2 separate regions of the Homo sapiens genome follow, and region 2 is linked to region 1. The links come from fine-mapping of genetic effects on gene expression. A gene starts in region 1. The other region holds a variant in brackets. All regions are shown on one strand. Distances are between the middles of the regions.

What was found.
Region 2: its variant is fine-mapped to the expression of COMMD1 in whole blood (INTERVAL, PIP above 0.99).

Annotation. Positions count from the first base shown.
Region 1 is chr2:61,902,248-61,907,626 of GRCh38, forward strand. It overlaps COMMD1 (copper metabolism domain containing 1), which reads left to right and starts at 3,427. Exons shown (of 3, transcript NM_152516.4): 1 at 3,427-3,611. The coding sequence starts at 3,432. RefSeq lists an enhancer at 3,489-3,678.
Region 2 is chr2:61,802,703-61,808,081 of GRCh38, forward strand. It overlaps a transcript of FAM161A not described here and the pseudogene RPS24P7. Among named protein-coding and RNA genes, the nearest start is that of FAM161A, 49 kb to the right of the region's middle. The variant A/C (reference allele first, on the strand shown) is at 2,949.

The DNA of each region.
Region 1 (5,379 bases):
CTGTAATCCCAGCACTTTGGGAGGCCGAGGCAGGTGGATCACGAGGTCGGGAGTTCGAGACCAGCGTGCCCAAGATGGTGAAACCTTGTCTCTACTAAAAATACAAAAATTAGCCAGGTGTGGTGGCGCACGCCTGTAGTCCCAGCTACTTGGGAGCCTGAGGCAGGAGAATCGTTTGAACCCGGGAGGCGGAGGTTGTGGTGAGCCGAGATCATGCCATTGCACTCCATCCAGCCTGGGCGACAAGAGCGAAACTCCACCTTAAAAAAAAAGAAAAGAAATCACTGAAGTGACAGAAACCCCTATAGAAAATGGACAAGGAAATAGGAAGAAATATAAGCAGCCAATAAATATAGTAAAAAAAATTTACTCTCAAAATTTAAGAAATGCGAATTAAAACAGTGAGATAATATTTTTCATGTATCATATGGCAAAGGTTATAAAGAATAATATAGCTGGGTACGGTAGTGTGTGCTCATATTCCCAGCTACTTAGCCTGAGATCGGAGGATAACTTGGGCCTGGGAGGTCGAGACTGCAGTGAGCCAACATCGTGCCACTGCACTCCAGCCTGGGCAACAGAGTGAGACTCTGTCTCAAAAATTAAATTAAATGAAATTAAAAGAATAATATCAGTCAGTGTTACTAAGGTTTCATAGAAATAGGTGCAGCCTTTCTGGTGGGTAATTTGTAAATTACGTGTTTAATAGTGCTTTTTCTGCTTGCCACCTTTTGATTTATGCTTTTTCTTTTTCACCAACCATTCTCTGCAACTTCTGTAAGTACATGTAAAACAATCTATAGTTTGTCACTAAGTTTGGTTTACTTGGAGCCATGGAAGCAACTCTGAATTTGCCTTTTATAAAATTATTTTAGGAAAAGAAATATATTTTTTCTATTGTAAAAAATGCCTCTGGCCAGGTACAGTGGCTCACACCTGTAATCCCAGCACTTTGGGAGGCTGAGGTGGGTGGATCACCTGAGGTCAGGAGTTTGAGACCAGCCTGGCCAACATGGTGAAACCCCTTCTCTACAAAAAATACAAAAATTAGCTGGGCGTGGTGGCGCATGCCTATAATCCCAGCTACTTGGGAGGCTGAGGCAGGAGAATCACTTGAACTTGGGAGGTGGATGTTGCAGTGAACCGAGATTGTGCCACTGCACTCCAGCCTGGGCAACAGAGTAAAACTTTGTCTCAAAAAAAAAAAAAAGAATACCTCTTTACTGGATAAACATTAATTAAAGTAGTCTAGATGAGTAGATTCTCAACAATGTGGCACTGCCTTGAAAGGGGCATTTCAGTTGTCACTTTTTTTTTTTTTTGAGATGAAGTTTTGCTCTTGTCCCCAAGGCTAGAGTGCAGTGGCACCATCTCTGCTCACTGCAGCCTCTGCTTCCTGAGTTCAAGCAATTCTCCTGCCTCAGCCTCCCGAGTAGCTGGGACTACAGACATGTGCTACCATGCCTGGCTAATTTTTGTATTTTCAGTTTCACCATGTTGGCCAGGCTGGTCTCGATCTCCTGACCTCAGGTGATCCACCCACCTCAGCCTCCCAAAGTGCTGGGGTTACAGGCGTGAGCCACCATGCCCGACCTCAGTTGTCACTTTGAAGGAAGGGTAGGAATGGAATAGGTGGGAGAGAGGTCAGATATATAAGACATCTTCCCATGCAGGGTACGTTCATAAAGGTGAAAAACCTGTTTGTTATTATCTAAGCCTAAAGTCAAACTCTATTTTATATAGAAACACAATGTATTATTATTATTATTTTATTTTTTTGAGACGGAGTCTCCCTCTTTCACCCAGGCGACAGAGTGCAGTGGCGTGATCTCGGCTCACTGCAAGCTCCACCTCCCAGGTTCATGCCATTCTCCTGCCCCAGCCTCCCGAGTAGCTGGGACTACAGGCGCCCGCCACTAGGCCCGGCTAATTTTTTTGTATTTTTAGTAGAGATGGGGTTTCACCGTGTTAGCCAGGATGGTCTTGATCTCCTGACCTCGTGATCCGTCTGCCTCGGCCTTCCAAAGTGCTGGGATTAGAGGCGTGAGCCACCGTGCCCGGCAACACAATGTATTTTTAGTTTAGCATTAATATATACAGAATATTCCAGCTTTGCAATGACTGTAGAGTGAGGAAAGAGTGTTTTTTGTTGTAAACTTTACCAACTGTTGTTCACATTTCAGAACATCAGTTCTTAACATTTCAGAACATCATGTTACCAGAAGCAACTGCCCTCCCTCTGGAGTCACCAATACCACACACCTGTATCAATTTGCATTTGTAGAAGTCACAGGTGGTTCTACATAAAGATGTAAAGATGCAGACATCTGGCTACTTTGTATGTCTTTTAGTCAACTAGTATAGGTGTACCCAAACACACATATTATATTATAAATTCCTTTTCATTTTATGATAAATTACAATTAGGTCATTAAATTGATTTTTCAATTGAGATATTCACATACTGTGAAACTAATCTTTTAAAGTGTACAATTCAGTGGGTTTTAGTATATTAACAAGGTTGTGCTTCCACTTCCGGAATGTTTTCATCATGCCCCAAAGAAACTCTGTACCTATAAACAGTCACTACCCATTCGTCCCCTTCTCCAGATTCTGCCAACTATTACATTACTTTCAGTCTCCATGGATTTGTCTATCCTGGACATTTCATATAAATGGATGTCCAATATTTGGCCTTTTATATCTGGCTTCTTTTACTAATCCTGTTTTTAAGTCTCATTCACGTTGTAGCATGTATCAGTACTTTATTCCATTTTATGGCTGAATAATATATTGATTTTAAAAAATTATATGGGTGGGAAGTTATATTAGCTATGCATTTCATTTCAGGATAGTAAATAAGGTGTTAAAATATTTGTCATATAAAAGAACATTGGATCAGAGCCACTGATCTAGCTGGAAAGACAAGTGTATATAAAAAGGCAATTAACAACCCAAAGAAAAACATTATGTAATCAGGAGATAGTTAAACTTCCTGAAAAAAAGGATGACAGGTAAGGATTAGGCAGAGATTAAATCTGAGTGATCGATCCTATTCAGTTAATGGGTTGGCAAGTCCTGGAATGAGATACAGCCATCTAAAAATTAAACTGCCAAACTTATAGGCTGCTACCCCATCTCCAGTAATCTCTGCGAGCAATCTTTCTTTCCAGTAGGCTCTGCAGTGATGAAGGGGATCAGGGGAAGCAAAGTGACCCTACTGGAACCAAACGGATATTTCCGTGGAGGTATCCTAAGGGGATGGGTGTTGCAGAGCAAAGCTGTAAGCTGCCAACTCTGACCCCTGGGGAAGCCTTGCCTCCAGGTTCCCCGAGGTTCCCCGTGGTGGTTTTGCACAGGCTATTTAGGCACATCTCGGCCGCCGTGGCGGGGCACGGCTCAGCTGTTGCGGGGCGGGGCCTTCGCAGAGCATGGCGGCGGGCGAGCTTGAGGGTGGCAAACCCCTGAGCGGGCTGCTGAATGCGCTGGCCCAGGACACTTTCCACGGGTACCCCGGCATCACAGAGGAGCTGCTACGGAGCCAGCTATATCCAGAGGTGCCACCCGAGGAGTTCCGCCCCTTTCTGGCAAAGATGAGGGGGATTCTTAAGGTACTGCTCTTTTCTGTAGTCTCCGGCTTGGAGCAGAACCCCTTGGCCGCTGGCTTCAGACTCTCCCCCCCTTGCCTTCCCCTGTCCTCACAAGCCGAAAGGCTTTTCCCTCTCAGACCTCCACTCCGTGGGCTCCACATCGGGCTCCTTCAGATTTGCTCGTTCTGTCGCCCCTTCTCTCTTTCCTAAGGGGGACTTTTTCTGCTGAAGTTCCCAGTCCCCCGGTAGACTGACACCCACAGGGGTTTTTCCTTCAAGACATTTCTGTCTCTTGGTAACAGTCGCGTTTCCTCAGCAGATCTGTGGGATCTGGTGTTTTTAAAATTAAGAGTTTTAGGTCGCTAGCTTTCCCCGGTTGTGGAAGTTGGGAGCGTTAAAATGAGCCAGTGTCTGCTGGATAAGGGGTGGCTTAGCCCGAGTGACATCTGTCAAGCAGTCCACTGCGTGGTTAAAAGAGCATAATTACCAGCTTGAAGTCAAAGTATAGACTAGATCGTCCAATAGAAATATGTGAGCCAAAAAGGTGAAATTAATATTTTAGTAATATATCTTATTTAATCCAGAATAGCCAAAGTATTATCACTTCACATGTAATCAATATACAGAATATTGACAAGATTTTTTGTTACTTTTTTCACTAAATCTTCGAAATCCAGTATTTTACACTTAAAGCACATATCTCGGACTTGCCAAATTTAAGTGCTCAGTAGTCACATATGGCTAATAACCATCATATTGGACAACTCTATTTAGACCGAGAACTAGTTATAGGAATGTAGTGTCAATGTACTCTAGAGACAAACTGTAAAAAAATTACTGACTTTTATAGGTCTCCTATGTGTTAGGAACGTACTGAGATGTTTTACATGTTGTTTCATTTGTTTCTTGAAAAAAAAACCTTATATAGTGGACACCCATGGTAAAGATTTAAGAAACAGGTCCAGGGAATCTAAACAGCCTAAAATTCATTTTGATTAAAGTCAGTGTTGAAATTTAATCCACTATCCTTTTGAATTTGCTATTTTTTCAAAGCTGTTTATTCTTTAAAAGGCACTTCTGTATTTTTTTAAACTGATTTTGCCTACAGGATTTGAATCCAGAAAAAAAGCAAATGAAAACAAATATTTCACACAGTAAATGGATTGTCTCATGGAAATGTAAGGAGTAATATCTCAGGTGTGATCCTAGACATTCTAAGTAATCTTAGTTGATATCAGTCATAAATCACTAGTGAATGCTTTCTATTTCTTTTGTTTTTTCTTTTTTTGAGACGAGTTTTGCTTTGTTGCCAGGCTGGAGTGCAGTGGCCCGATCTCGGCTCACTGCAATCTCCACCTCCTGGGGTTCGAGCCATTCTCCTGCCTCAGCCTCCCGAGTAGCTGGGGTTACAGGCATGCGCCACCACACCCAGCTAATTTTTGTATTTTTAGTAGAGACTGGGTTTCACTATGTTGGCCAGGATGGTTTTGATCTCCTGACTTCGTTATCCGCCTGCCTCGGCCTCCCGGAGTGCCAGGATTACAGGCGTGAGCCACCCGGCCCGGCCAAATGCTTCCTATTTCTATCAAATTTTACTCTTTGAGCAGTCCAAGAGAGTTTCCTAGAAAATTTGACATCTGGGTTTTTGAGGTGTTTGGTCTCCTATGGGGATGAGGCCTATATCTCTTCTGCAGGCTAAGAAGAGACAACAGCACATGTGTAGGTAATGCTTTAGAATCTCCAAACATTGGGGGCTACTTCTCCTCTCTAGGTGGACGACATTTTGATT
Region 2 (5,379 bases), 100 kb before region 1:
AATTAGTCACGTTGTGAATTTCTGCATGTATTCATTCAGTCATCCTCCTATGCACCAGGCACTATAGTTGCTACGGGTACAGTAATTCGCAAGATGGTCGTAAGAGGTAGCAGGGACTCCTCTTAGGGGCCTGCCATGCACTTTCTCCAAAGCATGGAAATAAAGGAAAAGTTTTAGTTATTGCAGGGGAAATTCCAGGCACCTAGTTAGCCCTGAGAAGTAAACCAGCAACTTGATTAGCAAGAAGGTAATAGTAGCTTAAAACAATAGCCAAGAAAGTTCGAATTCTGGGATGTTTTGTTCTCTATAGAAACTAAAGATAACTCTTCTCCTCCCTGGCTGTCTGAGGGTAGGCCACCATCATGAACTATCCTAACACATAGGATAGGACACAGTAACTATCCTAACTAGAAAGTTCATGACTACTTCAGAGGAAACAGATGCTCATTGATGTCCTTCATCCCGGGAAGGCAACAGTGCCTAAGACAGAAATTCAGAAAAAACTAGCCAAAATGTATAAGACCACACTGGATGTCATCTTTGTATTTGCATTCAGAACTCATGCTGGTGGTGGCTTTGGCATGATTTATGATTCCTTGGATTATGTAAAGTAAAATGAACCCAAACATACCAAACATAGACTTGCAAGACATGGCCTGTATGAGAAGAAAAAGACCTCAAGAAAGCAACAAAAGGAATGCAAGAACAGAATGGAGAAAGTCAGGGGTACTGCAAAGGCCAGTGTTGGTGCTGGCAAAAAGCCGAAGGAGTAAAGATATTGCAAGGATGTTATCTGCGGCCATTGAGGATTTTTCACAATAAGATTAATAAGGCCGGGCGCAGTGGCTTACGCCTGTAATCCCAGCACTTTGGGAGGCCAAGGCAGGTGGATCACAAGGTCAGGAGTTCAAGATCAGCCTGGCCAACATGGTGAAACCCCACCTCTACTAAAAATATAAAAATTAGCTGGGCATGGTGACACTTGCCTGTAATTCCAACTTCTCAGGAAGCTGAGGCAGGAGAATGGTGTGAACTCGGGACATGGAGGTTGCAGTGAGCTGAGATCGCACCATTGTACTCCAGCCTGGGCACAGAGAAAGACTCTGTCTCGAAAAAATAAATAAATAAATAAAAAGAGGCTGGGCGTGGTGGCTCATGCCTGTAATCTCAATGTTACAGGAAAGGGGTTCCCATCCAGACCCCAAGAGAGTGTTCTTAGATCTTGCCCAAGAAAGAATTCAGGGCAAGTCTACAGTGCAAAGCAAAAGCAAGTTTATTAGGAAAGTAAAGGAATAAAAGAACGGCTACTCCATAGACAGAGGAGCTCCAACGGCTGCTGGTTGCCCATTTTAATGGTTATTTCTTGATAATATTCTAAACAAGGGGTGGATTATTCATGCCTCCCCATTTTAGACCATATAGGGTAACTTCCTGACGTTGCCATGGCATTTGTAAACTGTCATGGCACTGGTGGGAGTGTAGCAGTGAGGACGGCCAGAGGTTACTCTCGTGGCCATCTTGGTTTTGGTGGGTTTTAGCCGACTTCTTTACTGCAACCTGTTTTATCAGCAAGGTCTTTATGACCTGTGTATCTTGTGCTGACCTTGTATCTCATCCTGTGACTTAGAGAATGCCTTAACCGTCTGGGAATACAGCCCAGTAGGTCTCAGCCTAATTTCTCCCAGCTCCTTTTCAAGATGGAGTTGCTCTGGTTTCACACCCCTCTGACACCAGCATGTTGGGAGGTCACGGTGGGTGGATCACCTGAGGTCAGGAGTTTGAGACCAGCCTGGTCAACACGGTGAAACCCCGTCTCTACTAAAAATACAAAATTTAGCCGAGCGTGCTGGTGTGCACCTGTAATCCCAACTACATGGGAGGCTGAGGCAGGAGAATTGTCTGAACCTGGGAGGTGGAGATTGCAGTGAGCCAACATTGCAACACTGCACTCCAGCCTGGGCGAAAGAGTGAGACTCTGCTGAAAGAGAGAAGAAAGAGAGAGAGAGAGAAAGAGAAAGAAAGAAAGAAGGAAAGAAAGAAAGGAAAAGAAAGAAAGAAAAAGAAAGAGAAAGAAAGAAAGAAAGAAAGAAAGAAAGAAAGAAAGAAAGAAAGAAAGAGAAAGAGAAAGAAAGAAGGAAGCAAGGAAGAAGGGAGGGAGGGAGGGAGCGAGAGAAACTAAAGATAACCTCCTAACAGATCCCTGAGTTGTTTTTCAGAAACATGGATGCCCAGCAAATGAATCCACTGGCACCTAGACCTCAGGTTAGGGGGAACTGAGGACTCAACTCTGACTGCCATTTTTTTTTTCTGAAGTTCTTTCTGGGGGGCCTGGAGGAAGTCACGCCCATGAGCCAGAGATAACATTCTTTTCTCCTGACCCCAAATTTTTAGACAAACCTTTTCCATCTTAACCAATTGCAAATCAGAAAATCTTTGAATCTCTGACCTGTAACCTGCCCCATGCCCCACCACCCACTTTGAGATGTCCCGCCTTTTTAGGTCAAACCAGCATATAGCCTCCATGTATTGATTTATGACTTTGCCTGTAACCTCTGCCTCTGCCTTTAAAAACTCTTGCCAAGGTGGATGTATCACCTGAGGTCAGGAGTTCGAGACGAGCCTGGCCAACATGGCAAAACCCCGTGTCTACTAAAAATACAAAATTTAGCCGGGCTTGGTGGCGGGAGCCTGTAATCCCAGCTACTCGGGAGGCTGAGGAAGGAGAATTGCTTGAACCTGGGAGACGGAGATTGCAGTGAGCCAAGATCATGCCACTGCACTCCAGCCTGGGCAGCAGACCAAGACTCCATCTCAAAAACTAAATAAATATAAAAACCCTTACTTGCAAGCCATTGGGGAGGTCAGGTCTTAAGTATGAGGTGCCTGATTCTTCTTGCTTGGTGCCCTGCAAAGATAAATACCGTTCTTCCTCCTATTGCAAACTGCAG[A/C]GTGAATGTTTGGCTTTACCGAGCCAGGTGTGCAGACCCCAGTTCAGTCCTGTACCAGGCACAGGTCCCTGCCCTCATGGAGCTGCAACTGCCAATGATCTGTTGCAGTGCCCAAAACAGACTTACCCAGAGGCAGGTTCTGGGCAATGCAAAAACACCAATCTCATTCTTTTATTGCTAGGTTTTTTTTTTCCTAAGCCAATACTATTAGTTTGGTTACATATCTTATTCACTAGGCTTGTTATCAAATTACTTATGTTACTTTTTAAAAATTAACCTGTTCTCAGCCAGATGTGGTGGCTAACACCTGTAAATCCAGCACTTTGGGAAGCCAAGGCAGGATGATCATTTTAGCTCAGGAATTCAAGACCAGTCTGGGCAACATGGCAAAACTCCATCACTACTAAAAATACAAAAATTAGCCGGGTGTGGTGGCACATGCCTGTAATTCCAGCTATTCAGGAGGCTGAGGCAGGAGAATCGCTTGAATCTAGGAGGTGGAGGATGCAGTGAGCCGAGACTGCACTACTGCACTCAAGCCTGGGCGACAGAGCAAGATCCGTGATCCGTCTCAAAAAAAAAGAAAGAAAGAAATTGCAATCTGGAAGGATGGTTAGAACCATTCTTTTGAGGGCGCCATCGCTACTTAAAAACATGCATGTTGAAGTTCTGTTTAAAAACTCACATTATTTTTTAGTCCCAGGTTAAGAGTGTGGCATTACTTTACAATGAACCGCCTTCAGATGTGGCAGTGATTGCCCTTGCCCCCTATTATTCTGTCGTTGTCATTGTGAGATATTCATTTTAAACACCTAGAGAAGGGAAAATTAATCATGTTTTAAAATCAGATAAAGCATTAATGGTCATGAAATTTTAATACTGATTCTCAGTTTTTAGTTTTCACACAGATGAAACTTTCTTATTTAGAGATAAACCTAGGGAAAGATTTAATGAGTAATTGATATTAAAAAGTTGAAATCACATGTAAGCTCTAATTTTTTCACATGAAAGCAATTTTGCTTTCCACGTCTTTTTTTTTTTTTTTTTTTTTTTTTTTTTTGAGACAGAGTCTGGCTCTGTCGCCCAGGCTGGAGTGCAGTGGCGCCATCTCGGCTCACTGCAAGCTCCGCCTCCGGGGTTCACACCATTCTCCTGCCTCAGCCTCCCGAGTAGCTGGGACTACAGGCACCTGCCACCATGCCCAGCTAATTTTTTCTATTTTTAGTAGAGACGGGGTTTCACCGTGTTAGTCATGATGGTCTTGATCTCCTGACCTCATGATCCACCTGCCTCAGCCTCCCAAAGTGCTGGGATTACAGGCGTGAGCCACCACACCCAGCTCAACATCTTTTTATTTGAAAGAATTGAGCTCACATTTGTCAGATAAATTGCTGCCTAAATTATCTAAGATGATTTTCACATTCTTGTGTGGAAATCAAATTTTGCAAGGTTGTAGAATTAACTTAGAAGAGACAAAGGTGTGTTCTTTCTTTCAGGAGGGCTTGCTAATTGAAGTTGAAGCATCAGATGTCCTGAAAGCACTCAAACTCATCAGGTAACAAAAGCCCAGACAACGGAAATGAAGCAAAGCAAGTTAGTTCTTGAAATGAAACTCTGGAAATCCCAACTTGAGCAAATAAAGAGGCAGAAAAAAAAAAACCTAGAAAAAGAATAAATCACAAAATAAAAGGCACTTAGGAAGGGAATTTTTTGTTTAAGTATTTATTTAGTTTTTTCCATTATAAGCATTGCGTAGATTGTGCTATGCTTTTGAAATTGTAAAAATATGTCTGTTTGTTGTATGTCTCTTCTCTCACTACTTGAAAATGTAAAAAAGAACATTTTCTTGCCTGTATCTTACATGTGCAGGATTACAAGCTCAGATGCTTGCTGGGCCAATCCCAAAATAGGCTCTGCAAAGTGGGGGACTTTGCAGAGCCTATTTTGGGACCCTGAAAGGGTTAGCTGCCTCTGGACTCCAGATTTTTTTTTTTTTTTTTTTTTGTTGAGACAAGGTCTTGCCCTGTCACCCAGGCTGGAGTGCAGTGGCGTGAATCATGGCTCACTGCAACCTCCACCTCCAGGGCTCAAGCATTCCTCCCACCTCAGCCTCCTGAGTAGCTGGGACTACAGGCACACAGCACCACACCTGGCTAATTTTTGTATTTTTGGTAGAGACATGGTCTCACTATGTTGTCCAGGCTGGTCTCAAACTCCAGGCCTCAAATAAACCTCCTGCCTTGGCCTCCCAAAGTTTTGGGATTCCAGATGTGAGCCACTGTGTCCAGCCAGACTCCATTTTTTGCCACACAAAGTGTGGGCCCAGTGCTGCTAGACATTTGGGTATTCCAGAGAACAGTGTCCTGGTCTGGGGTCCCCCAAAAGCTGACCCTGAGACCAGGATTGGGTACAAGGATTTATTTGGGAGGTG